Homo sapiens: one gene and its partners. The protein of the gene in region 2 interacts with the protein of the main gene of each other region in a biochemical or structural test. Each region holds a gene or a part of one and is shown on either strand. Other genes may lie near its edges. The genes, in order: UBE3B, EPAS1, EGLN3 and F12.

Region 1 (7,036 bases), on a different chromosome or scaffold from region 2:
CTCAGGTGATCCACCTGCCTCGGCCTCTCAAAGTGCTGGGATTACAGGCGTGAGCCACTGTGCCCAGCTGTTACTGTTCTTATTTGTATTTAATAAAGTTCTTGACTTTGGGGGAGATTCCCATTTTTAAAAAAACAGCTGTGGTTAGATTTATGTATTCATTCAGCTGACTTGATTTAAATGGTATTAGGGTGCTGATTCTTGAGCCCAGGATGGGGCAAAGAGTCATGCTCTTTCTAAATAGGTTTAGCAGAATCTTAAGAATAAGGAGAGAGGGTTCCTTTCAAGCAGTAATTGAGAAATATTACTGGTGGGACTGTGGTGGGCTTGAAGGCACAGAGGAGGCAGGTTGAAAGGTCAGGGAGCTTTATACTGTAGGGTCATTTTTAAATTTTCTGACAGTAGGAAAAGTTATCTTTGAATTATTTTTGTTCTTAGGATTCATAATATTGATTTCCCTTAAAGCAGGCACAGCTAGATAAAGAAGGCTCTGTAACTTGTTCTGCCACCAAGTTTTTATAGTGGATTATTGACTGAATGAGGAGGATTTTCTTTTTTCTTTTTTTTCTTTTTTTTTTTTTTTTTTTTTTGAGACAGAGTCTCACTCTGTCCCCCAGGCTGGAGTGCAGTGGCACGATCTTGGCTCACTGTAACCTCTGCCTCCTGGGTTCAAGTGATTCTCCTGCCTCAACCTCCCAAGTAGCTAGGATTACAGGTGCATGCCACCACACCCAGCTAATTTTTGTATTTTGTATTTAGTAGAGACGAGGTTTCACCATGTTGGCCAGGCTGGTTTTGAACTCCCGACCTCAGGTAATCCGCCCACCTGGGCCTCCCAGAGTGCTGGGATTACAGGCGTGAGCCCCCACGCCCAGCCTTGAGGAGGATTTTCTCGTGGGCCATTCCTAGCTGGACCCTAGCTGCAGCCAGACCACTCTTTCCGGAACGTTTTTTGCTTGTGTATTCAACAGTATTTCTAATTCCCACAAGTGTTCCAGGGAATGCTTCTGTTCTCACAGGACACTTCTAACTGGTAGCACATGTTAAGGCATCCCATTCTGCTTGCATCTCATCTAACTTCAGTTTCAGTCATTTTTGCAGAGTGTTTTTATGGAATCGTCAGTTTGCTGACCCTGTTTTCTGATCCCGCCTTTGTTCATTTTAGAGAGTTCTACTGTTTCGAACCATGGTTACCAAGGAGAAGGAGAAACTGGGGCTGGTGGAAACCAGCTCTGCCTCCCCGCATGTCACTCACATCACCATCCGCCGGTCCAGGATGCTGGAGGTGAGTGTGAAGCCTATGGAATCCTACCACAAGGAAGTGGGCCCTGCAACATGGAAGCTCTTTAGTGGACGGTCTCTGGCTTTTGAACTGTTCCTGTTACTCCTTGATCTGAAATTAAGGCTCTGGGAGCAGGAAAGGGGTCATTTGTCCTGTTGACTGCTCTGAACAGCTGCTTGGTTAAACATGTTCTCATTGCTGGAGACCCAGCAGTGTCTTCCTTTACCCCATGAGAGCTAGAGTATCCTGGGCTAGAGCATCCACCTCTTCATGTCCCTTTGAAATGAGGACAGGAGCTGCCAGTCACAGCGGCTGCACTAACACTCTCAGGTCTGTGCAAACTCCATTTGTCCCAGCAGGCACTTTGCTGAGACTCTCAACTGTGATTGTAGTATATAAGTGGAGTGGAGGTGTTACATTTACTGAGTTATGTAGAGAAATACTTTTATCACAGAGCCAGAAGTTCTTTGTAGACAGAAACTTACAAGATACCACTGAAGTGACCCACCTGAGCTAAATCCGTTGTCTGGAACTACCACTATACGGTGACTCCATGTAAATTAGAGATAGGTACCCAGTCCTCATATGTCAGAAAATTGTCACAATACATTGGTTTTGTTGGTACAAGACCGTGCCTCCAATCTGCTGGAACATGGTTGTCATAAACTTAACTACCTACGATGTCTGTGTTATCCATGCCACAGCCTCCCCTGGGCTTGTATAGTGCACAGCCTACCCATACATGCTCATCCTGCCAGCGATAGAATTGGTGACTGAGCCACAGTCCCCATTCCCTGGAGAGGCTTGGCTTCATTTATTTGCCATGTTTGCACTTCAGACCTTTTTATCACACTCCAGCTGCAGTTCCCCATGAGCCTGTCCTGTAGTGTAGGACAGTCACGGGATCCCCTGAAGTATGTGGCCAGATAGCCACCCCCACCAGCAGATGGCTTCTGGCAGCAGCTGTTCCTCCTCACGTGTCTTCATTTTCTCCCTCGGTGCATCGTACCTTGTTTGTGTCACTCCTTACTGGAGAGCTTGTTTGAGTGCCCCTGGCCACTGGTGATCAATGCCGAGAGCTGCTAGGAAGGCAGTGTGTGCTGAACAGTGGATGTTTCTGACATTCTTCAAGGTAGGCATAAGGAATTGAAGGGCCCACTGGGCCCTGCAGGCCATGTGAAGGAGTAAAGCTGGCTGAGTGGGTCTCATTACAGGAGCATTCTGTTTGCGTGCTAGACATATAGAAATAATCTCCACTTCTGCGCCCTCCTGTTCTTGAAACAGCCCTCTTGGTCTGTGTAGCTCTACTTGAGAAAAATAGCCCCCACGAGTGAGTTGATAAATGGCAACTGACACCCAGCCTCAGTGTTGGGGAGCAGTTGGAAGCACGTGCCTCCCCAGAAGAGGCCACCGCCACTCAGCTCCTCCAGACCTGCCATGTGACGAGGTGGGCTCCATAACGCTCTTGAGTTTTTAAGAGAAGGCCAAAATTCAGATCTTCCATGTTGTGAACTAATTGAACTCTGTAAAGTGCCTAGAAAGTCAGATAACACCTGTCTTTCCACCAAATTCAACCTGTGGGCCACCCATTTGCAACCTCTGCTTTTGATTCAGAAAAAGCCCAATTGTGTGGTAGGGACTCCCTTTCTAGCACTTCCCTCTGCAGACCCAGATGCATCTCCCTTGTCTCTAGAAATCCTCAGCCCCACTACCCATCACGCCTACCCAGACGTGGCCAGCACCCACCCATGGGAAGAGTCTGGGGTGGTATAGATTGCAGTATCTCCTGAGAGTGGCAGAATCCGACTCCCTTCACAAATATCATTGCTTATTGGAAATTCACTTGACATCCCAGTTACTCTGGCCCTACTTTTTAAAGCATATCCCTCAGGGATGGCAAAAGAGATGTCTGTCTTAGGCTTTAGGCAAAGTCCCTTTTCCTCTTTACTTTCCACTGGAGAAGGGGAGAGGGTTGTTCATTGTTATCCCAGTTGTCGTAATCTGGTGGCTTGGTTATTAGAATATGAGAGCCCAGGGGCCTTTGCTGGATTTGGACACAAGGGGGCGTCAGTAAGCTGATCTCAGACTCATGCTCTCCTGGGCATTGTTTCCTTTTTTATGGTTAGTATTGAGGGCTATGCTTCTCTATTAGGCTTCCAGATATTAAAGTCCTGTAGGAAGGCTCTTCTTCCCAGAGGGTGAGTTTGGGCTGGAACTCTAGTATTCAGAACCGGAAGGATCCTCAAACATACTCTTACCCAGTCCTTTCCCCTGTCTCTGTCAAAGGCAGAACTGAGGCCAGAGAACTTCAGTCAAGGTCACTTGGATATCAGTGATAGAGCTGGGCCTGGAAGCCAGGCATCCCTTTTCTAGCTCAGTATTCCCTGTGTGTGCATGTTGAGATGCAGTGAAGAAGAGGAACGCTGACTCACATTCACCTCCCAAGAGGCATGGATATAATCCTCGCATATCCACGCCAGTTCCCAGAAGGCAGGAAATGTATCACAAGAGGCAGTCCCCTCTAAACGTTTAAACAAAGAGGCTGGTGTGGAGCTGATCAAGCAAGACTGAGATTTGAATCCAGTAAACGCTCCTTGAGCTAGGCCATGTGCCACTTGCTTTCACATGTACCATCCCATTTCATCCACATAACCACAAACGCATCTACTAATGCGTGTGAAGGCTGGGGAGGCATAATTTTAAAGCAGGTTGGAGGAACTCCTGCAGGCAGACAGGAACTTGATGGAATTCTCCATCCGTTCTCATCTCAGTGCCAAGATAATTATCTTAAATTTAGGCAGAATGGTTTAAATGCTGTTACAGCTGCCTGTTGACTTCCTGTTTCTCCCTTTTGTCATCTAACTTAATGATTCTCAAACTTTATGTACATAAAAAGTCCTTCTCAGGTTTGCCTCCACAAAACTGTGCTCCTGTTCCCACATGTGACTTAGGGGTCTTGAGAGGTAATTTTCCCTTGCCCACTAACTTTGAAGCCTAACCCCTGAATCGGGGCACCATAGGATAGTCCTTTGGGGATCACTGGGTGAACATGGCAGGAAGGCAGCAAGGGTTCCCCAAAACAGGTCTCGCCACACTGGCATACTGCTCGTTTGCTTTGTGATGAGGGGACCAGACGGCAGCCGAGTGGATGCTGTGGAGACAGCCTGTCTAACCTGCGAAGCATGTGACAGTGTTACAGTTGTAGCTGAAAGGGAGAAATGTGGCATGGCCTTCATAGGACAGCAGGGTTGATTGGTCACTTGTTCCATCACAGTGTCTGAAGACATCAGTTTCACCTGGTGATTGGGCCTCTCAAGTCGGGCCAACAGACTCTTCCCTGGGCCCTGTGCTGTTCAGCACTGTTTTTATAGTCACTGCTCTGAAATAAAAACCTCAGCACCCCAAGTACTAGGAATGCATTAGATGATGGAACCAGAAGCCAGGAAGGCCTCAACAGATTAGAATCAAGAGACAAACTAAACAGATGATTTAGTAGGAGAACTCCAAAGTTGTGGTTCTGGGGCTGTGCATGTTGAGGTCTGGATGGAGTAGATGTGCTGAATGGCTGTGTCCTAACAGAGCTGACCACCAGCCAGAAGTCCAGGCCCAGCACCACCCCCACATCTCGGTCTCTGCTCCCTGCGTTGATCCCTGCCATCCACCTGCTCTGCTGCCAATAGAAAGATCTGACAGAAAGTCAGCCCTGTTACTCTTTGCCTAAAACCTTCTGCAGCTCCCATTACCTTCAGGATGTCCCCTAAATTCCTCAGCATGACTTGCAGGCACTTCATGATTGGGAAGGCAGCGGGAGATGAGGGGTGATGGGTAATTCTTTTCATTTTACAGTGTTCTGTAGGTTTGATTTTTTTTTTTTTTCTTTTTTCTTTTTTTTACCATGAGCTAAAGATACTCTTAGCATTGAGAGAGAGAGAAATGTATCTTGTCCCGGTTTCTTTCATCCTTTGTCTGATGGCCAGGAGCTTGTCATGACTCATTTTGTCTAACTTCCCCATCTCACTGCTCTGTCCCCTTGAGGTCAGTCTCCCCTTGCCAAGGAGTGATACTGTCACATCCCCAAATGAATCTTTGCTTTTAATCAGCACTCATTCAAAAGCAGGTGAGAACGGCTCCTGTCATGCATCCACGTTTCATAATTTGCACATTTGGTAATGATGCTGGGAGAGCTTCGCACAGAGGAGAGGGAACCCCGAATTGTGTGCATAAGGCTTTGGGCTTCCTAATGGGCTGTAATTCTGCTCTTGGCAGGACGGCTACGAGCAGCTTAGGCAGCTCTCCCAGCACGCCATGAAGGGGGTCATCCGTGTGAAGTTTGTCAATGACCTCGGGGTGGACGAAGCAGGGATTGATCAAGACGGTGTTTTTAAGGAGTTCTTGGAAGAGATCATCAAGAGAGTTTTTGACCCAGCACTCAATCTGTTCAAGGTATTTAAGGGGAGCAACAGCAGGGCTGACAGCAGCCAGATTCAAGAAGTGAAGAGCTGGGCTTGCTCCTTGCAAGGCACTTGACCTCTGCCTCTCCCCGTCTTTTTGCCTTGCAGACAACCAGTGGGGATGAGAGGCTGTACCCCTCACCCACATCCTACATCCATGAGAATTACCTGCAGCTCTTCGAGTTTGTGGGGAAGATGCTGGGGAAGGCTGTGTATGAGGTAGGAACGTTAAGAAACAGAGAAATGTAAAATAAAATGTTAACGGTACCATGGGCTTCTTCACATACACATATGTGATCAGGCTTGGCCATGTAAACTGTCACTAGGATACAAGCGAGGACAGGGGCAGGAACCAAGGTTTGTTGTACACCAGTGCTAGGTACTTTGCCTGTGGCATCTCATCTCATCCCATCGACAGCCCTGTGACGGGGCTGCCACTGTCCTGGCTATTTAAGGATGGGAGACCTGAAGCTTTGAGGAGTCACCTGTCCAGAGTTTCGTTGCTAGTTAAGTGGTAGAGGTGGAATTTGAACCCAGGCCGGCCCAAGTCCTAAGGCCAGCCCTCTTCTTTCCTGAGGCATGAGGAGTGGTGTGCAGAGCCAGATGGCCACACGGAGGCTGGGTCCCCGTTGTAGGAGGGCAGCATTTTGTGGAGTTTGATAGTTTTAAAATCTTGTGTTGTTTGAGTGAGTGCTTCCCAGCCATGGCAACAGGACAGGACCAGCTGTTCCTAGTCAGCCGTGTGACCATGTGCCTTCAAGTTTCTTTAGTTTTTAAGCCGTGTTCTCGCATCAGTAAAGTGGAGATAAGAAAAGCCACATTCCTGGGTTGCCGTTAATGGTAAGTGAGGAGGGCCTTCTACGGTGCCCAGCCAGCTGCTCACACCAGGTGGATCGGAGCAGTCATCCTCACCTTACTAAGAGGAAGTGAGTCTGGGTTTCCACTCTGTGGCCTGATGGGGTCAGGGTGATGTGGCCCACACAGCTCCTGTCCATTGAAACCCCGTCCATTGAAAGCCAAGGTGGGACCACCTTCAGTGGGAAGTCACCGCCTGTTCCTTGGGAGAGTCCTGTTTCCCAGGAGGAAGGAAAGCTGCAGCACAAGCCCAGCCAGTCTGTGTGGCCTTCGCAGTGGGCTCCAGAGCTGCAGGGACCCTGCCTGGGTCTCAGGCTCTGCTGAGCTTCTGGCCCAAGCACGGAGGAAGCGAGCCACCTGGGCAGCACTCCTCGCATACCCCAGGAACCTGGAGAAGCCAGATGCTTTCCAAACAGAAAGAGCCAGCAGCTGGGCCAAGCTGAGAGGG
Region 2 (2,827 bases):
CAGTTCTGGGCTTTCACTGTGCTCTGTCTCTGGCCGAGGGGATCTCTGCTCTTCCCAATCACAGTCTACCTGGGAAGACCCTACTCCAGCCCAGCCGCCTCCAAATTGAAGTCCTAATGCCCAGGCTGCCCCTTTCCCTTCGGGACCTCCATCCCAAAGTGCACTATGTGAATATACAGAACAGTGTGGCTCTCAAACGACTTCATGTAATTTTCTGAAAGCAGAGACCATGACTTCTTTCCTTGGGTTCCCCATAGGATACAAAAAATGGCCCCGAGGCACATAGATAGATAGATAGAAAAATACTTGCAGAAATATGGAAGATACAATATGAATTTTCAGACTTAGGCAACTACCAAGTATTTAACACAGTCTTTCCTTCACCAGTCTTATCAGCTCACTTCAGTAGTCTCATAAAGGTCTGTGCTAATGTTCAATTTATATGAACGACTTAATACTTCACTTTACATTGGCATAGCCCATGATAAATCCACAGGAAATAAGAGCCACCAGCAGTGGTAGGATCAGAATACTTTAATAAGATACCAGTGTCAAAATACATTTCCTTATAAAGTTAAGCTCCCATACAGTTATAATGTTGTCAGTAGGAATTCGACAATATAATAACGTTCATGAAATCGTTACGTTGACAGGTAGGGTTAATATGAAGCTTGGAATATTTTTCAGTGTTTTAGTAAAACTGCAAGGGTAAAATGCCCTTAATGCCAGGGCAACACACACAGGAAATCAAATACCAGCATTTACACGTCAGTAACCCTTCAAGTTCTGCCACCCTGTGTGGGGTAATGCCGTGCAGCTAAAATATGATTTACGCAACACCATGACTAAGGAATTTCTCATAGAACTTAAATTTCTTTTGAAAGCTATTTTTTGTTTTTGGCAATAAGTCTATCCGGGCTTACTAAATAGTTGGCCCAATGTGCTTTGTGTGTGTTTTTAGAAACTTCTTCATTGTACCCATTACAGAAAAGTTCCATGTAATTGGTATTGAAAAACCAGAGGTGTCGTCCCTCTTACCCAGGGAGTTGCAAAGTGCTCTGGGAACACTATTTTCAGTGCTTCCTACCTACATGTCACTGACCGACCCAGAGACCTCAGCCAGGGCCTGTGGCTAGGGGCCATCCCTGGAGGCCTTGCGGGGCCATCTGGCTGCCGGCTGAGTGGGGGCTGCAGGGCTGGTCTGGACCAGCTGCTCTCCCGCTGTGCAGCCTCCTCCTCAGTCCAGCTCCACGGGGCTCCAAGGTCGTGAGCTTGGAGGACGTGGACGGGGTCACTATACCATTTTTGACCCCTCATTTGCATGAATTCCCGTCTAAACCATCTCATGGTAGTTCTGGAAATGTCCAAATGTGCCGTGTGAAAGACCATCCGAGTCACATAGCTCAGTGCACTTGAAGGGCTAGCAACAAAACCTTAAGAAAAGTTAGAGCACTTCCCCGCCCCACCCCCCGACCCCACAACGTGCCATCAGACCCTCTTGGCAGCAATAATAATAATACATACATACATAGTACATAGAGAATGTGAGGGGATAGCGCGCAGTGCTCCCGCTGAATGACTCCACTGCTCGGATTGTCACACCTATGGCATATCACAGATGGCAAAAAGCCGACAGAGGGAGGCCTTCCACAGTGTCCGTACAGGCCGTGGGAGCACTGGACAAGTCTGCAGTGTCCACAACACTAAGAAAAATTAACAGCTTCGAAAAGATCTTAAAGTGATTTTGTGAGCAGGATTCCATTTCCGTTTCTAAGTTTTTAGATATTACAAAGTACCCATATATATGATAAACACTTAACCCAGATATAAATTTTCTCCTCTTTTAAAAAACTCAGTTATGTTTTTGAATAATAATAAAAAATCCACCAAATGCGGGGGAAAAACACCAGTTTAGGAAAAGCCACGCTGTGCAACTTTCACAGATAACCACATACGTTGGAGTTGACCCTTCACATTTCTTTTTTTCCAAAATTAGAGCAAAGAGTCAGCTTAAACAAAAAAAAAAAAACCCTGAAATTTACAATATGGTGATTAGTTTAAAAAAGAAACGAGAAGGGCTCTGCGAGGGAGACGCCACAAACCAAGCTTGGAAAGCAAAATCATTTTTGTTTCTCTTTGGCAACAACAATAACGAGGAATCTTTTTAGTAAAATGAAGCTAAAGCTTCTCCCTACAGAAGAACAGACATGCACCAAACTTGTTAGTATGGACAGTTGTGTGTGAGAAGGAGAAGGAGGGAGAGAAACCTATGGATAATATAAATTAGAAGTCATTGAAGGTGGGGAGGAAAAAAATCCTACAAAATTTAAGAACATTTCAGAACAGGTAAAACAATTGTGTACTTTAAAAATAGGGATAATAAAGTGAGCATCTCAGAAAAAGGCCACTGCTTGGTGACCTGGGCAAGTCTGCCAGGTAAGTCCATCTTGTAAATAGTGTGCTGGCGTTAGAAATACCTAGTTGCAAAAACAGACGGAGAGAGTGAAGCTGGTGGGACGGCGTCGGCAGAGGTGCTGCCCAGGTAGAAGGCCTGGCTCAGGTGGCCTGGTCCAGGGCTCTGAGGAGGTCCCCTCCTTGCAGGAGCGTGGAGCTTCCCAGCACGGGCACGTTCACCTCACAGTCATATCTGGTCAGTTCGGGCAGCAGGTAGGACTCAAATGAGGGCCCGAGCAGCCGGCTTGCCATGCCTGAAAGAAGGGTTGGTACCATAACTTAAAGGCCTAAATCGAACATTTGGAAAAGTGTCTACTTCTTTGTGACTGGGGGATACCAATAGAGCAGCCCTAATTTCACTCTGCTCCTTCAG
Region 3 (8,017 bases), on a different chromosome or scaffold from region 2:
CTAAGTGTTGCAAAAATGTTTAATGGATCAATAAATAAGGTTGCCTTTGCTCACAGTGAAGTCATGCAAAATAATGATAAACCTTCTGATGATATAGGATGGTAAAAACACACACACAAAATATTCAGATACCAGCTAGGAGGAAGAGAACCTCAGGTATGGCAGTACTTTGATGGAAAAGAAGACATGTAGACATTTTTCATCAGAAATAAAAAAGGACACGATGGAACCTTCCCATATTTCTGTTGGAAATGTAAAATGGTACACCTATTGTGGAAAACAGTTTGGTGGTTTTCCAAAAAGTTAAACATAGGCCGGGCGCAGTAGCTCATGCCTGTAATCCCAGCACTTTGAGAGGCCAAGGCGGGTGGATCACTTGAGGTCAGGAGTTTGAGACCAGTCTAGCCAACGTGGTGAAACCCCATCTCTACTAAAAATACAAAAATTAGGTGGGCATGGTGGCGGGCACCTGTAATCCCAGCTACTTGGGAGGCTGAGGCAGAAGAATCGCTTGAACGCAGGAGGCGGAGGTTGCGGTGAGCCGAGATGGTGCCATTGCACTCTAGCCTGGGTGACAAGAGCGAAACTCTGTCTCAAAACAAACAAACAAACAAACAAACAATTGGCTGGGTGTGGTGGTAGGTGCCTGTAATCCCAGTTACTTGGGAGGCTGAGGCAGGAGAATCGCTTGAATCCGGGAGGTCGAGGTTGCAGCGAGCCGAGATTGCGCCATTGCACTGTAGCCTAGGCGACAAGGGCAAAACTCCATCTCAAAAAAAAAAAAAAAAAAAAAGAAAGAGTTATAAAATTACCATATGCCCCCAAAACTGTATGCCTAGGTCTATTCTCCAAAGAATTGAAAACAGGTACTCAACATACTTATGCATGCATGTTAATAACAGCACTATTATAATAGCCAAAAAGTGGAAACAACCCAAATACTCATCAGTGGATGACTGGATAAACAAATTGTGGTATATCTACGTAGTGGAATTATCATTCAGCCATAAAAAGAAATAAAATCTTGGTAAATGGTACAAAACATCATGCTAAGTGAAAGAAGCCAGTCACAAAAGGTCACAGGTTATATGATTCCATTATTAGGAAATATCTAGAATGGGCAAATCCATAGAGAAGGCAGATTGATGGTTGCTAGGGGCTTGGGAGAGGAGGCAATGGGGAATAACTGCTTAATAGGCACAGTTTTCTTTTGGGGTGGTGAAAATGTTTTGGAACTAGAGAGAGGTGGTGGTTTCATAACATCGCGAATGTAGTAAATGCCACTGAATTGTTCATTATAAAATCGTAAATTTTATGTTTTGTGAATTTTACCTCGTTAAAGTCAAAATGCATACATATATAAATAGGACAGTGTTACAGTTGAGAAGGCAGAAGCATCCCATGCTTCCTCTTCCACTCAACTGAGACTCTTTGGTTTCGTCATCTGTAGGAAAATGAAGTTGAACTAGGTGACCACTAATATCTCTTCCAGTTCAAATTCAAAGGTAAGAAAACTCAACATTTTTCTTTCTCCCCTACTCCTCCACATGCTTGAAAATGACTGCATCTATACTGCAGATGCACACTGGAAGACAATGTTGCTGTAATTAAATTACAGGGAAATTAATTTGCTTTAGTTATTATGGAAAGGTATTTTAATATTCATTATTATGACACAAATTAGTGGACAAATAACTAAAGCAAATGCACTTTAACAATTAGCTTGGGTTTTCCCTCTCTGATGCTCAGACCCACAGCCTGTGCCTGGCTCCAGCCTGTCTGTGTTCCTCCGTGCAATCACACACTCTGATTTTTGCCAGTCACAGTATCTCTGATTCCTCTGCCAAATGCAGTGCTGGCAGCCCTAAGCTGATCGGGAGGTCCTTGATTGATTAATGAGTGCCCTTGCCAAGCAGGGATGGTGCCAAGGGATTGAATTCCTTTCTAAACTGCCCATGCTTTACAACCAACATAATCTAGAACAGTTGTCACTAGGACTCACTTAGACTATTGCTCTAGTTATAACGAGTTACAATTTTACTGTGAAATTATTGAAATATTATTTGAACAGTAAACTAAATTTACCCACTCCTGGGATTTGAAGTCTTGGGTCAACATGTTCATTCTGGAAGGTGGTTGTATAATTTTCTGTATTTTACTGACCACCACCCCTCTACCAGTGATTGCAGGTTTCCATTCCTTTGTAAATTCCCTCCTTATCGTTCCTAGGAATAAGGTGTATCTACAAAAAGCCTCCAGCTAGAAACATTTCAGCTAGTTACTAAGGATTATCTGTCACCTTCCCCCTTTTTGATTCTGTCCCTCTTCAGGGATATCTACTTCTGAGATTTACACAGTCCCCAAAGCTGCAAAATGCACGACCCAATGCCAACCAGGGTCTACATTCAGGCTGTCTTAGACCAGGTTTCTCCTGGTCACCCCATTATCCATAGTGCCCCTGGAGGAGATCACTGCAGGAGGCAAAGCAGTTCCTTCTGTGCAGGGTTCAAGCAGAAGTAGAGAGGAGGGCTTTCCTCCTTTTTGGTACTGCACTCCATTTCACTCCTTGCTGCAATTTTTTTTTTTTAAGGCTAAATTTCACTTTTGTCACCCAGGCAAGAGTGCAGTGGCATAATCTCAGCTCACTGCAACCTCCACCTGCTGGGTTCAAGTGATTCTCTTGCCTCAGCCTCCCGAGTAGCTGGGATTACAGATGCCTGCCACCATGTGTGGCTAATTTTTGTATTTTTAGTTGAGGCGGGGTTTCACCACGTTGGCCAGGCTGGTCTCAAACTCCTGACCTCAGGTGATCTGCCCACCTCGGCCTCCCAAAGTGCTGGGATTACAGGTGTGAGCCACTGTGCCTGGCCCTTTGCTGCAATTTAACAGTCCTCCAGTTTTCACTTTATGTCTCTGGCTCCCACCACTCAAATGTCCACTGCTCAGATAGACAAAGCTGAGAGACAAATGCCCTGTAGAACTCCTAAGTTCTCCCTCCACTGGCCTCTAAGCTTTTGTGCTGGGTCAGGCTAATTTGCTTGACTCTTTTCCAGTGACTTCTCTTTGGGGAGGCTCCCCAGCCCCTTTTGCAAATAGATCCTTCCAGATAAGCCCAGACATACTGAATCCCAAGTGGAGGCTGCTATGGCTCAGGGTCAGACATTGAGTTCCCAGTAACTATTTATTAGCCATTCACTATGTGCTAAACACTGGGGTTCCAAGGATGATGGTCTCCTCTCATCATGGAGCTGCCTTGGGAATTTAGACAAGAGCTCTTTGAGCAGTGATGGCCTTTACCCCAAGGAGGGGTACCTCCTGCTCAAAGGTAATACCAAAGGTGCCAACTAATCACTGACTTGGCAGAGAACCTCTCTCAATATAACTAGAAGTTTCATCAAAGTTTCTTAAGCACTCCACCATTGACTGCTCTCCTTCACCATCCCCCAGGTTCTTACTCAACCACGTGCCTCTGTCTGCTTCTTTCCAACTTGTAGCAGCACCTTTCCTCTTCTATTCTTTGTTCTTGTCCTGGATGTCATTCCCTTTCTCCCCTCAGAGGCAGAGAGGAGAGGGCTGCTGGAGGAAGAAGAAAAGTGAAAAAGCTGTAGAAATTTGCTTCCACAATAAACAATACCCGAAAAACCTGTACATTCTTTTCTTCAACTTAAATGAAGAACCCAAGTGTGCACTCATATGAAGTAAAAAAGGTGCAAATAGGCCGGGCACGGTGGCTCACGCCTGTAATCCGAGCACTTTGGGAGGGCGAGGCGGGCGGATCACCTGAGGTCGGGAGTTCGAGACCAGTCTGACCAATGTGGAGAAACCTCACCTCTACTAAAAATACAAAATTAGCCAGGCATGGTGGCGGGCGCCTGTAATCCCAGCTACTTGGGAGCCTGAGGCAGGAGAATTGCTTGAACCTGGGATGCGGAGGTTGTGGTGAGCAGAGATCACACCACTGCACTCCAGCCCAGGCAACAAGAGCAAAACTCCGTCTCAGAATAAATAAATAAAAAAAATACAGTTCCTTTTTTTTTTTTTTTAAAGAAGTACAAATAGCTTTGCATGCAATTTATGAATTTTTTCCTGATTCTGATCGCTGGTGTTCAGTAGGAAAGGGAATCAAAACTCCATAAAGCAAATCAGCTTATCTGTAGATAACCAAAGTCTTCTCAGTGGTGTCTGTCCCTCTTGTGAAAGTACAGCTGCTTGTGGGAAAAGTGAGAGACCTAGAATACAGTGTATCTTTTGGGGGACATACCTCTGACTGTTACAGAAGCATGTGATTAATTTGGAAGGTAGAATTTCGGAACATCATATTTTAATAGGAAGCTTGAAAGGTAAGTAGAGGAAAACATCAAGCAAAGCAAAATACACCATTTGCAGAGTTCAATCAGATATGACTCAGCATTTCTTCATTGTGCTCATCCCCAGCTCCTCAAGCACATAGTGCCTTGCACACAGTAGGGGCTGAGGGAAATATTCGTTAATGCATTAATTTTAGTTAAAACTAGATACCTCCTAATCTCTCAGTGGCTTGAACTGGGTCAAACAGCAGAGGAATGGGGTAAATAAGGAAAGACACCCGGTAAAGGTAGAACAAGACCACTGCTTAATAAATATATTCGTTTTTGGGGTTATTATTTTGCTCAAAAGTCTATGAGGTGACCAACCCAGAATGTGGCAGTTAATTCTATTTACATTTTCAGTGTGGGATCCAGGTTTTCAAGTTTGTTATGTGATTTTATGCAAAACAATATGCAAATCCAGCGCATTCTAAAAATTCAGTCTGCTTTCCAGCCGCTCCCCTGGTCACAAACAACTAAGGTTGGCGCCGGGCTCTCTGGGATCCTTCGCGGAGGGGCAGAGCAGGCGGGGGTGACTGGCAGCGGGGCGGGGGAAAGGGCGGTCCCGGAGGCGGTCCCGGGGCGGAGCCCGTGACGCGCGGAGTCGGCCGGCTTAAGGGCCGGACCTCAGCGTCTCCCGGAGTCTGGCCGCAGTCGCGGCAGTGGTGGCTTCCCATCCCCAAAAGGCGCCCTCCGACTCCTTGCGCCGCACTGCTCGCCGGGCCAGTCCGGAAACGGGTCGTGGAGCTCCGCACCACTCCCGCTGGTTCCCGAAGGCAGATCCCTTCTCCCGAGAGTTGCGAGAAACTTTCCCTTGTCCCCGACGCTGCAGCGGCTCGGGTACCGTGGCAGCCGCAGGTTTCTGAACCCCGGGCCACGCTCCCCGCGCCTCGGCTTCGCGCTCGTGTAGATCGTTCCCTCTCTGGTTGCACGCTGGGGATCCCGGACCTCGATTCTGCGGGCGAGATGCCCCTGGGACACATCATGAGGCTGGACCTGGAGAAAATTGCCCTGGAGTACATCGTGCCCTGTCTGCACGAGGTGGGCTTCTGCTACCTGGACAACTTCCTGGGCGAGGTGGTGGGCGACTGCGTCCTGGAGCGCGTCAAGCAGCTGCACTGCACCGGGGCCCTGCGGGACGGCCAGCTGGCGGGGCCGCGCGCCGGCGTCTCCAAGCGACACCTGCGGGGCGACCAGATCACGTGGATCGGGGGCAACGAGGAGGGCTGCGAGGCCATCAGCTTCCTCCTGTCCCTCATCGACAGGCTGGTCCTCTACTGCGGGAGCCGGCTGGGCAAATACTACGTCAAGGAGAGGTCTAAGGTAGGACGCGCTCGGCGCCCTGCCGCAGCTGCTCCCGCGGGGACGGGAGGCACTCGGAGTCCGTTGTATGTCGACTTCCCAGGGCCGTAAGCGAACTTTGTTTTTTAACCAAGAAGTCAGCCTGGTTTGTCTCTACTCGCTGCTTCCCCCCACCCCTCGCCCCAGCTCCTCTGAGCGAAAGTCAACGTTAAGGGGCTCAGGTGAACCATGATGATGACCTTCTGTTGACTTTGAAATATTGGCTCTTGTGGGTGACAAAAGCCAGACAAGCTGTGGCTGTGGTCCGATTTTAAGACGAGGTTCTCAAAGATCCAAAGGAGGGAAAGGGTATTGGAAACACTGTGTATCATCTGAGACACACGTGTCCTCATGATCTTAAATGCCTACTTTAAAGCCACCTAATACTGCCCTTCATTGTGGTCAGAAGAGATTTCTACAAAAGCACTCAGAATTCTGGAGGCAGTTGTGATTTTGCCATGTGGCAGTTGGTTTGTGGAGTTGGGCAGGTGTGAAAGGGTAAAACTCCACTTCTGAATGCTGCTTCTGCCCCCTGGGACCCAGCACATTGTTAGACCATCTTCTTGACTGAAAATTCTCTCCTGATGCTGAGCCCTGCACCACCACCTTCCTTTTCCTAACTATGAATTGATGGCAAAGTCCACTCAAAACAACCAGTTAAGTGCTCACGAGAGAGTAGTCAAGCACCTCCAGAAAGAAACCGGGTTTTTGTTCACATAGCAGGAAGTGACTCCCTGGGTGGTAATTTATCTTGGAAACACAGGTAGATTGGCAGAAAAACGGGAACATGTAGGTACCGCGATGTTGGTGCATGTCCATTACTTTGGGATAGGCTTTCTCAGTCTTTCCTCAAATGATAGTTGAGCCAGTTTTCCAGTGGCAATTCTGAGTGACTTGCGCTTGTCTTATGGTGTGGTCAAGGGACGTTCAGAACTACGGAAAACTTTTACTGAAACAGCGAAGCAGAGTATACCGGCATGAGAGGGAAGATGAACACTCACCTATGTACCACTCTTTGACAATAAATATAGTATTTCTCAAATCAGTCTCAAGACTGATCCTGTCTCAGAACAGACCATTGTTCTCTCATTTCTCTAATACGCTGAGAGGAACACTCTGAATAAAGGCTAAGTGGTGAGGATTGGAAACGTGTGGGAGTGAAGGGGTGGAGGTGGATGAGTGCAGTGGGGAGTCACAGTTTGCCGTACAACTTCCAAGCCAAGAGGCCATGAATAGAATATCTGAAAGCATCGTTATTAATGCACCCAAGTAAAGTAAATCTTAGAAGATACTGCTTTCTAAATTTTACTTTGGGGAAAAAAATTCCGCGTGAGCTGAACTCTGTAGGAGATTGATGCTAAAGTGTTTCTTTATTCTTCTTCCATCATGTTGGTGGTGGATTAGTCACTCGTCTTTGACTAGTTTGATTTTTGCATTAAATGACCTTGCTGTCTTCTGTGGTGGAGGTGTGTCGGGGAGGGGAAGGGTCAGCCTCAGTGTTGCTGAGATGCTGGTAGTTTCTACCTGGAAGAGCAGACGGCTTCTTATTGGGTTTTTAAATGTTTCTTGTAAATTTAGGTGTTAGGAGTTTTTCTTCATCATTCTAGGAGCAGAATTTGCTCTGAGGGAGGTCAGGATTAATTGGTATGGAAAGAGGCCACTAACATTGAAAGTTAAATATTTTTATTTAGCTTTGACTTAATGGATAGGGATAGGGTTTCAGACTAGAATTTAACTCAAATGGAAGGAAAAACACTGTGTAAGTTAGGGTAAGGGAAAGAAAGATCCTGTAGATATGATTCATCAATTTTAGGTTATCTTTTGGGTGGAATGAAAAACTTTCCAGGTGACCCTGTCAGAAGGTGATCGTGAATTGAAAATAAAATTTATCCTGTCCCACCCCCAGATTTCCAGGTTTACTTTGGCTGGTTTGTCACAAAGCTCCCTGCCCTTTAGATAAATCACCTTTCGATTGGAATATTCCCTGGCCAATTAGAACCAAATGCAAACCAGGCTTGAGCAAACAACTAGTGTAGTTAAATTTTTTTTAAGTGTGCTTTGCTTGTATACAGAAGTCTCCTTAGTGATGTCTTGTGGTCTTGGGTTTCTTGTTTGAAGTTCATTATTAAAGTCATGGTAGAAACACTTTCCATTTCTACATGATTTTTATTGGTTTCACATTAATTTATCCTTCTTTTTCTTCACTCACTTTTTATCCCTCAGCTGAGCTCCTCATTTTGTGCTGCTTTCCAGAGCAGTGATAGAGACCCAGTTTACCGGTTCATCCTTCACCCGTGTTTTCAAGAAAAACTAAAGTTTTAAATTTATTT
Region 4 (6,894 bases), on a different chromosome or scaffold from region 2:
CTGACTCCACAACCTGCTAGCTGTGTGACCTTGGGTAAGTCTTCAGTCCCAAGGCCAGGAAGAGCACTTGCCACAAAGTAGGCACTTAATAATACTTGTTGAATGTTGAAGTCACTGTTAACCACTCTGATCTGAGCCTTGGTTTCCTTATCTGTAAAACGGCAGTAATAATAGTACAGTTGATCCTCATTCTTCTCTGGTTCTACATTGAGAATGTGCCTACTTGCTGAATTTTATTTGTAACTCCCAAGTCAATACTTGAAATGTTTTCATGGCCATTTGTGGGCATGCACAGAGCAGTGAAAAATTTGCACATTCCCAGTTAAGGTTCAACAAGGCGTCACGCTGCTGCTGCTTGTTTCAGCTCTCCTATTGAATGAGTGTCCTTCTCAGTCTACTTAGTGCAACGTTTTTCACACTTTGTGCTTTTGCTGGGGATTTGGCTTTTGGAAATGGCCTCTGAGCCTCCTGCTGAAGAGCTGTGTAGTTCCTAAGCACAAGAAGGCTACCTTAGGGAGAAAGCGTGTGTTAGACACTTGATTCAGGTGTGTGCTATAGTGCCATCAGCTTAGCATTGATGAATCAGCAACACATATACTAAATAAAATGTCTTTAAACAGAATCATACATAAAACCAGATTATATGCTGTTGGTTGATGAAAATGTTGTGACCAGAGGCTCACAGGAACCTAATACTGTTTGCTAGTTCAATGTTCACTGTGATTTTATAGAACATAACCATCGCGAATAATGAGAATTGCCTGTGTCTTCTTCAGAGGAATTGTCGTGGGGCTTCATGAGATAATGCCATGAAATGCTGAGCAGTGTCTGGCACAAAGTACCTGCTCAATAAGCTTTTGCCACTATTTTGTTCAAGGCAAAGTGCACTTGCCAAGGACCAAACCAGAACTAGGACAGTAAATGGAAATGGATCTGAGATGGACCTTTAAGATGCAAATGGGGGCCAGGCGCGGTGGCTCACGCCTGTAATCCCAGCACTTTGGGAGGCTAAGGTGGGCGGACCACCTGAGGGCAGGAGTTCGAGACCAGCCTGGCCAACATGGTGAAACCCTGTCTCTACTAAAAAATACAAAAATTAGCTGAGCATGAAGTTGTGTGCCTGTAATCCCAGCAACTCGGGAGGCTGAGGCAGAGAATCGCTTGAACCCAGGAGGCGGAGGTTGCAATGAGCCAAGATCGCGCCATTGCACTCTAGCCTAGGGGACAGAGCGAGACTCCATCTCAAAAAAAAAAAAAGATGCAGATGGGATGGACGGACAGAGAGGAGGGGGACCTTAGGCAGGGGATTAGGCAAGGATAGGGCACCAAGTTTGGGTAAGGCAAGAGAGAGGAGAAACTTTTGGGTGTGGGGTGAAGAGAGGAGGCTGAGGGAGTCCAGGGTTGGAATGTGCTGGGCCTCAACGCCATGCTTAGAGACTCAACCCCACCAAGTCAGGCCCACCAGGGTAAGGTCCATCTGGTTCACAGGCCCTGCTATGTGCCACACTCTAGGTAAATTTTTTTTTTTTTTTTGAGACGGAGTCTTGCTGTGTTGCCCAAGCTGGAGTGCAATGGTGTGATCTTCGTTCACTGCAACCTTCACCTCCCAGGTTCAAGCAATTCTTCTGCCTCAGCCTCCCGAGTAGCTGGGACTACTGGCGCATGCCACCATGCCTGGCTAATTTTTGTACTTTTAGTAGAGACAGCATTTCACCATGTTGGCCAGGCTGGTCTCGAACTCCTGACCTCATGATCCACCGACCTTGGCCTCCCAAAGTGCTGGGATTACAGGCATGAGCCACCATGCCTGGCATGTAGGTAATTTAGTGTCTGGAAGAATGAAAGCAATGGGGAGCTATGGCAGAGCTTGAGGAAGGGGGAAATGGCAGGTACCCTTCATCTAAAAGGTAGTTTCATAATAAAAGCTAATATTTGTAAAGCATTTCCATGCACCAGGTGATGGGCTGAATACCTCACATGGGTTTCCCTTCTCAACAACCCTAAGAGGTTTACTGTTATCAACCTGGTTTCACAGAAGGGGAAATTGAAGCTTGGAGAACTCAAATCCCTCGCCCAGAGTCACCCAGCTCATAAGTGATAAAGCTGGGCTTCAGAGGCATTCAGATGCCAGAGACAAGCTCTTGATCCTTCCTTGCCCATTGAAGGCCCTGGCCTCTGTGTGGCATGAATGATGCCCATGAGACGTACTGGGGAAAGGAAAAGAAGGGGAGAAGCTGGGGAAACTGAGGAAGGCTGGCAGGAGCCCAGGTGTGATGGCGCCAGCAGCACATATCTCAAGCACCTGCTCCGAGCCAGGCTCGTGGGCACTTAGACACAGCCCATACCCTGCCCTCAAGGATCACACAGCTCACGATCACTCTAGTGCCCATGGGCATAAGACCTAGCACCAGGTAGGCACTAGACTAGACTGCCCTGAGACTGCACACACTGCACCATACACATCCCCACCCAAGGGTTCCCGGGAGGAGGAGCCAGGCCACTTACCGACTGTGTGCTCTTCAGCTTTGTACTTATGCTCCTTGGGGGCTTCCCAAGGTGGAATCTACAAGGGAGAGAAGAAGGCAGGGAACTGACTATAAGTCATAGCCTGCCACCGATCTGTTGCTAGTCTGCAGCTTCCTCTCACAGCCCAGAAATGCAGAGATTTCTTCCCAAGACCCAAACCCTTTCTACCTCCCCCCGTTGTCTTCTTAAGGCCCATCTCCCCCAGAAATGCAGGCTGTGCCCTTGTATCCACCCAGTCTGGTTGTCTGTCTCCTCTGCCTGGGCCTTCCGGGCTGGCCTCACCTTTCCACATAGGCCTCCTAGTCACCTGGACCCACAGGTCATGAGCAGAGGCCATGGCTCATGGCTGTGATAGCGACCCCCCAGAACAATCCTGGGACAATCCTGGTTCCCACAGCACTCACCGAAAGTGTTGACTCCAAGCTCACCAGCAGGAACCCCAGGAGCAGCAGAGCCCTCATGGCATCCGTCCGTTGGTCCAGCTGCCTATCCAGGAGTCCAGATCAATAGGACTGGCCAAAGGTCTTGGAAATAGAGATTGGTCAAGCTGCCCTCCTGAGCCTGGTGGGGCACAGGCTGTTTGTGGAAAGCCAAGTGGAGCAACTTCCTTGGTCACCCCTTGAGGGCCGGAAAGTTGGGAGTTTGTGGGTGGGGGTGAAATGAAGAGCTGGGCTCCTCCTCTCTTTTCTAGATAGTGGGACTGGAAGCAGAAGAAGGGACATTCTTATGCTCTGGGTCCTGTGGAGATCAGGAGGTTAAGGAGATCAAAGATCATGGGGATCTTGGAGTCCACTGTGAAGTGTGTTCATTTTCTATTGTCATGTAACAAACTACCATAAACTCAGCATCTTACAACAATACCCACTTTTAATTTTCTTTTTTTTTTTTTTTTTTTTGAGACGGAGTCTCGCTCTGTCGCCCAGGCTGGAGTGCAGTGGCGCAATCTCCGCTCACTGCAAGCTCCGCCTCCCGGGTTCACGCCATTCTCCTGCCTCAGCCTCCCGAGTAGCTGGGACTACAGGAGCCCACCACCACGCCCAGCTAATTTTTTGTCTTTTTAGTAGAGACGGGGTTTCACCATGTTAGCCAGGATGGTCTCGATCTCCTGACCTCGTGATCCACCCGCCTCGGCCTCCCAAAGTGCTGGGATTACAGGCCTGAGCCACTGCACCGGGCCATGTGTCGCCTTTTAAGAACTCACCTGACTAGGTCAGGCCCACCAAAGCCATTCTCCTTTTTTTTTTTTTTTTTGAGACAGAGTCTGGCTCTGTCACCCAGGCTGGAGTGCAGTGGCACGATCTTGGCTCACTGCAAGCTACGCCTCCCGGGTTCACGCCATTCTCCTGCCTCAGCCTCCTGGGTAGCTGGGAATACAGGCACCCGCCACCACGCCCAGCTAATTTTTTGTATTTTTAGTAGAGATGGGGTTTCACTGTGTTAGCCAGGATGGTCTCGATCTCCTGACCTCGTGATCTGCCCGCCTTGGCCTCCCAAAGTGCTGGGATTACAGGTATGAGCCACCATGCCTGGCCCTGCCATTCTCCTTATTTTAAGGTCAAACAATTTGGGACTTAAATTACATGTGCAAAATTCTTTCACAGAAGCATCTACATTCATGTTTGACAGAATAACTGGGAGGTGTGCAAACACCAGGGGTAGAGATCTTGGGGCCATCTTAGCATTCTACCAACCACAGGAAGTGAGGCAAGAAAGCAAATGATTTAATGAGAAAAGTGCTAAACCAAGGGGCACTAAGATGTGCAGCTGGAACATGAGAAGAAGACGGGGTGCACATGTGCTGCCCAGCATCTGTCCTGGTTCGGTAATGACACTTTGATTTTTCCTTTAGCAACGACTCCTCTCTTACTTCTTCCATGGGCTCTAGTGCTGCCAACTCTACCCTCAGAGCTAGGGCTAGAGATGTGGCCTAGGTCTGGTCAATCAGAGCATGACATCTCTAATCCACAGTGATTGGTTCAGAGATAAGCATATACACAATTTAGGCCAATTAAAGTGCTAGCTTGGGACTTTTGCCAGAACTTTTGGGAAAGCAAAAAAGTTGCACTGGGGTTACTAAGCACAGAGCATGTGGGTCTGAACACATTGATGATCACCTTTGTCACTCTCTAGGGAGGGCCTGTTTGAGAATGAAGCCTACACATAGGAAAAGCAAAGCAAACAGGGCAGGAAGGATGGAAAGATGCTGTGGTAGACAGCCTCAAAGACAGCCCCCATTGATCCTCACCACCTAGGATTCATGCCCTTGTATGGTGTCTTCCCACATTGAGTTAGGGCTGTTCTGTGTGTCCATCAGAATATGACAGAAGTGGCTGGGTGTGGTGGCTCACACCTGTAATCCCAGCACTTTGGGATGCCAAGGCAGGCAGATCACTCTAGGTCAGGAGTTCAAGACCGGCCTGGCCAACGTGTTGGCCAAACCCCATCTCTATGAAAAATACAAAAATTAGCCGGGCGTAGTGGCGTGTGCCTGTAATCCCAGCTACCCGTGAGGCTGAGGCAGGAGAATCGCTTGAACCCAGGAAGTGGAGGTTGTAGTGAGCAGAGATTGTGCCATTGCACTCCAGCCTGGGCGACAGGGACTGTCTCAAAAAAAAAAAAAATATGGCAGAAGTGAGGGTGTTGGACTTCCAAGCCCAGGTCATAAAAGACATTGCAGTTTCTGCCTCGGTCTCTTAGGTTGCTCACTCTGGAGGAAGCCAGCCACTGTGTTGTGAGGACACACATGCAGCCCTGCAGAGAAGCCCATGTAGGGAGAAAGGAAAGCACCCTGCTGACAGCCAGTGCCAATTGGACAGCCACATGAATAAGCTGCCTTGGAAGTGGATACTGCAGCCCTCGCTGACATTTGGCTTGCAATCTTATGAAAGACCTCAAGGCAAAACTGACCATCAGAAACTGTGATAAATCATCATTAAATGTTGTTGCTTTAAGCCACAAGTTAGGGTGATTTGTTACACGACATTTGAGAACTAGTACTGATGGATTGATTTCTCATGACTTTGAGAGCCTACATCCTAAAACTAGAAGTATCCTTAAGACTTGGTCAGTTATGGCTAGGCACAGTGGCTCACGCCTGTAATCCCAACACTCTGGGAGGCTGGGGATCACTTGAGGATCACTTGAGCCCAGGAGTTCCAGACTGATGTAGGCAACATAGTGAGATCCCATCTCTCCAAAAAAATTTAACATTAGCCAGGCATGGTGGCGCGTGCCTGTAGTTCCGGCTACTTGTGAGTCTGAGGCAGGAGGATTGCTTGAGCCCAGAGGTCCAAAATGCTGTGAGCCGTGATTGTGCCACTGCACTCCAGTCTGGGAAGCAGACTGAGACTGTATCTCCAAAAAAAAAAAAAAATAGACTTCTCAGTTATATGAGCCAATAAAACCAATTTGAGTGGACTTCTGTCACTTTCAGTTATACAAAGTCCTAAGTTATACAAAGTAATTTATGGGAAATGAAGACTGAGTGTAGCAATTTATTAATTCTGCTGGAAGAGAGGCAGGCTGTGGAAGACTTCTTGGAACAGAAACACAGAAAGAGGAGGGCAGGAGAGGAGGGGCACCTTTCCAACCACTGGTTTCAAAGGTAACTGGTTTCAAAGTCATTGACGTGACAGCTGTTAACTCCATGATGAAAGTGAAACTATTAGATATATTGACGAGTCATTAAAGCGAAACTACCTTTGTCACCTTTTTTGTTGTTTCAAAGAGACTCGGTCTTATTAAGTTGCCCAGGCTAGCCTGGAACTTCTGGGCGCAAGTGATCCTCTCGCTTCATCCTCCTGAATAGCTGGGATTACAGGTTCATGCCATCATGCCTGGCTCTGTCAGTTCTTGATTGCTCCTGAGTATAGACCCTGGCCCTAAGGCCACTCCCACATTGGCTCCTTCCTCTTGGGGAGAAGGCAGCTGTTCCTCTACATGGAAGGGGCCTTTTGAACAGGTCTTCGCCACAAGTAGGGGTTTGCAGGCAGAGTGAGTAATACAACTGCACAGAAGCCTGAATGCAGCGTGTCAAATGGGGAATGTGGTGAGCATAAGGTGCCTTGTAGGGAGTGTGAGATGAGGTGTCAGGTGGACATTAATGGTCATTTGGATGTTCAACATCCATCTCCCTTCCTCTTCCTCTCCCAGTTTCATTTTGTGATCACCCCTCCCCAGCTGTGGTGGTGAAAGGGTACTTTATTATTATTTTTATTTAGTTATTTATTTGAGATGGAGTCTCGCGCTGTCGCCCAAACTGGACTGCCATGGTGCGATCTCGGCTCACTACAACCTCCACCTCCCAGGTTCAAGTGATTCTCCTGCCTCAGCCTCCCAAGTAGCTGCCATTACAGGCCCACGCCACCA

What was found.
Region 1: the proteins of EPAS1 (region 2) and UBE3B form a complex in vitro, tested with the Homo sapiens proteins (one study listed by BioGRID).
Region 3: the proteins of EPAS1 (region 2) and EGLN3 form a complex in vitro, tested with the Homo sapiens proteins (one study listed by BioGRID).
Region 4: the proteins of EPAS1 (region 2) and F12 form a complex in vitro, tested with the Homo sapiens proteins (one study listed by BioGRID).

What each region holds. Positions count from the first base shown.
Region 1 is NC_000012.12:109,515,600-109,522,635, forward strand, and holds part of UBE3B (ubiquitin-protein ligase E3B), read left to right. Parts: intron 1-1,165; coding exon 1,166-1,285; intron 1,286-5,548; coding exon 5,549-5,725; intron 5,726-5,841; coding exon 5,842-5,952; intron 5,953-7,036. UniProt on the Homo sapiens protein: E3 ubiquitin-protein ligase which accepts ubiquitin from an E2 ubiquitin-conjugating enzyme in the form of a thioester and then directly transfers the ubiquitin to targeted substrates.
Region 2 is NC_000002.12:46,384,390-46,387,216, reverse strand, and holds the end of EPAS1 (endothelial PAS domain-containing protein 1), read right to left. Parts: intron 2,709-2,827; coding exon 2,557-2,708; 3' UTR 520-2,556; downstream 1-519.
Region 3 is NC_000014.9:33,948,048-33,956,064, reverse strand, and holds the start of EGLN3 (prolyl hydroxylase EGLN3), read left to right. Parts: upstream 1-4,990; 5' UTR 4,991-5,312; coding exon 5,313-5,669; intron 5,670-8,017. UniProt on the Homo sapiens protein: Prolyl hydroxylase that mediates hydroxylation of proline residues in target proteins, such as PKM, TELO2, ATF4 and HIF1A. Target proteins are preferentially recognized via a LXXLAP motif.
Region 4 is NC_000005.10:177,406,541-177,413,434, forward strand, and holds the start of F12 (coagulation factor XII preproprotein), read right to left. Parts: upstream 3,025-6,894; 5' UTR 2,988-3,024; coding exon 2,931-2,987; intron 2,564-2,930; coding exon 2,506-2,563; intron 1-2,505. UniProt on the Homo sapiens protein: Factor XII is a serum glycoprotein that participates in the initiation of blood coagulation, fibrinolysis, and the generation of bradykinin and angiotensin.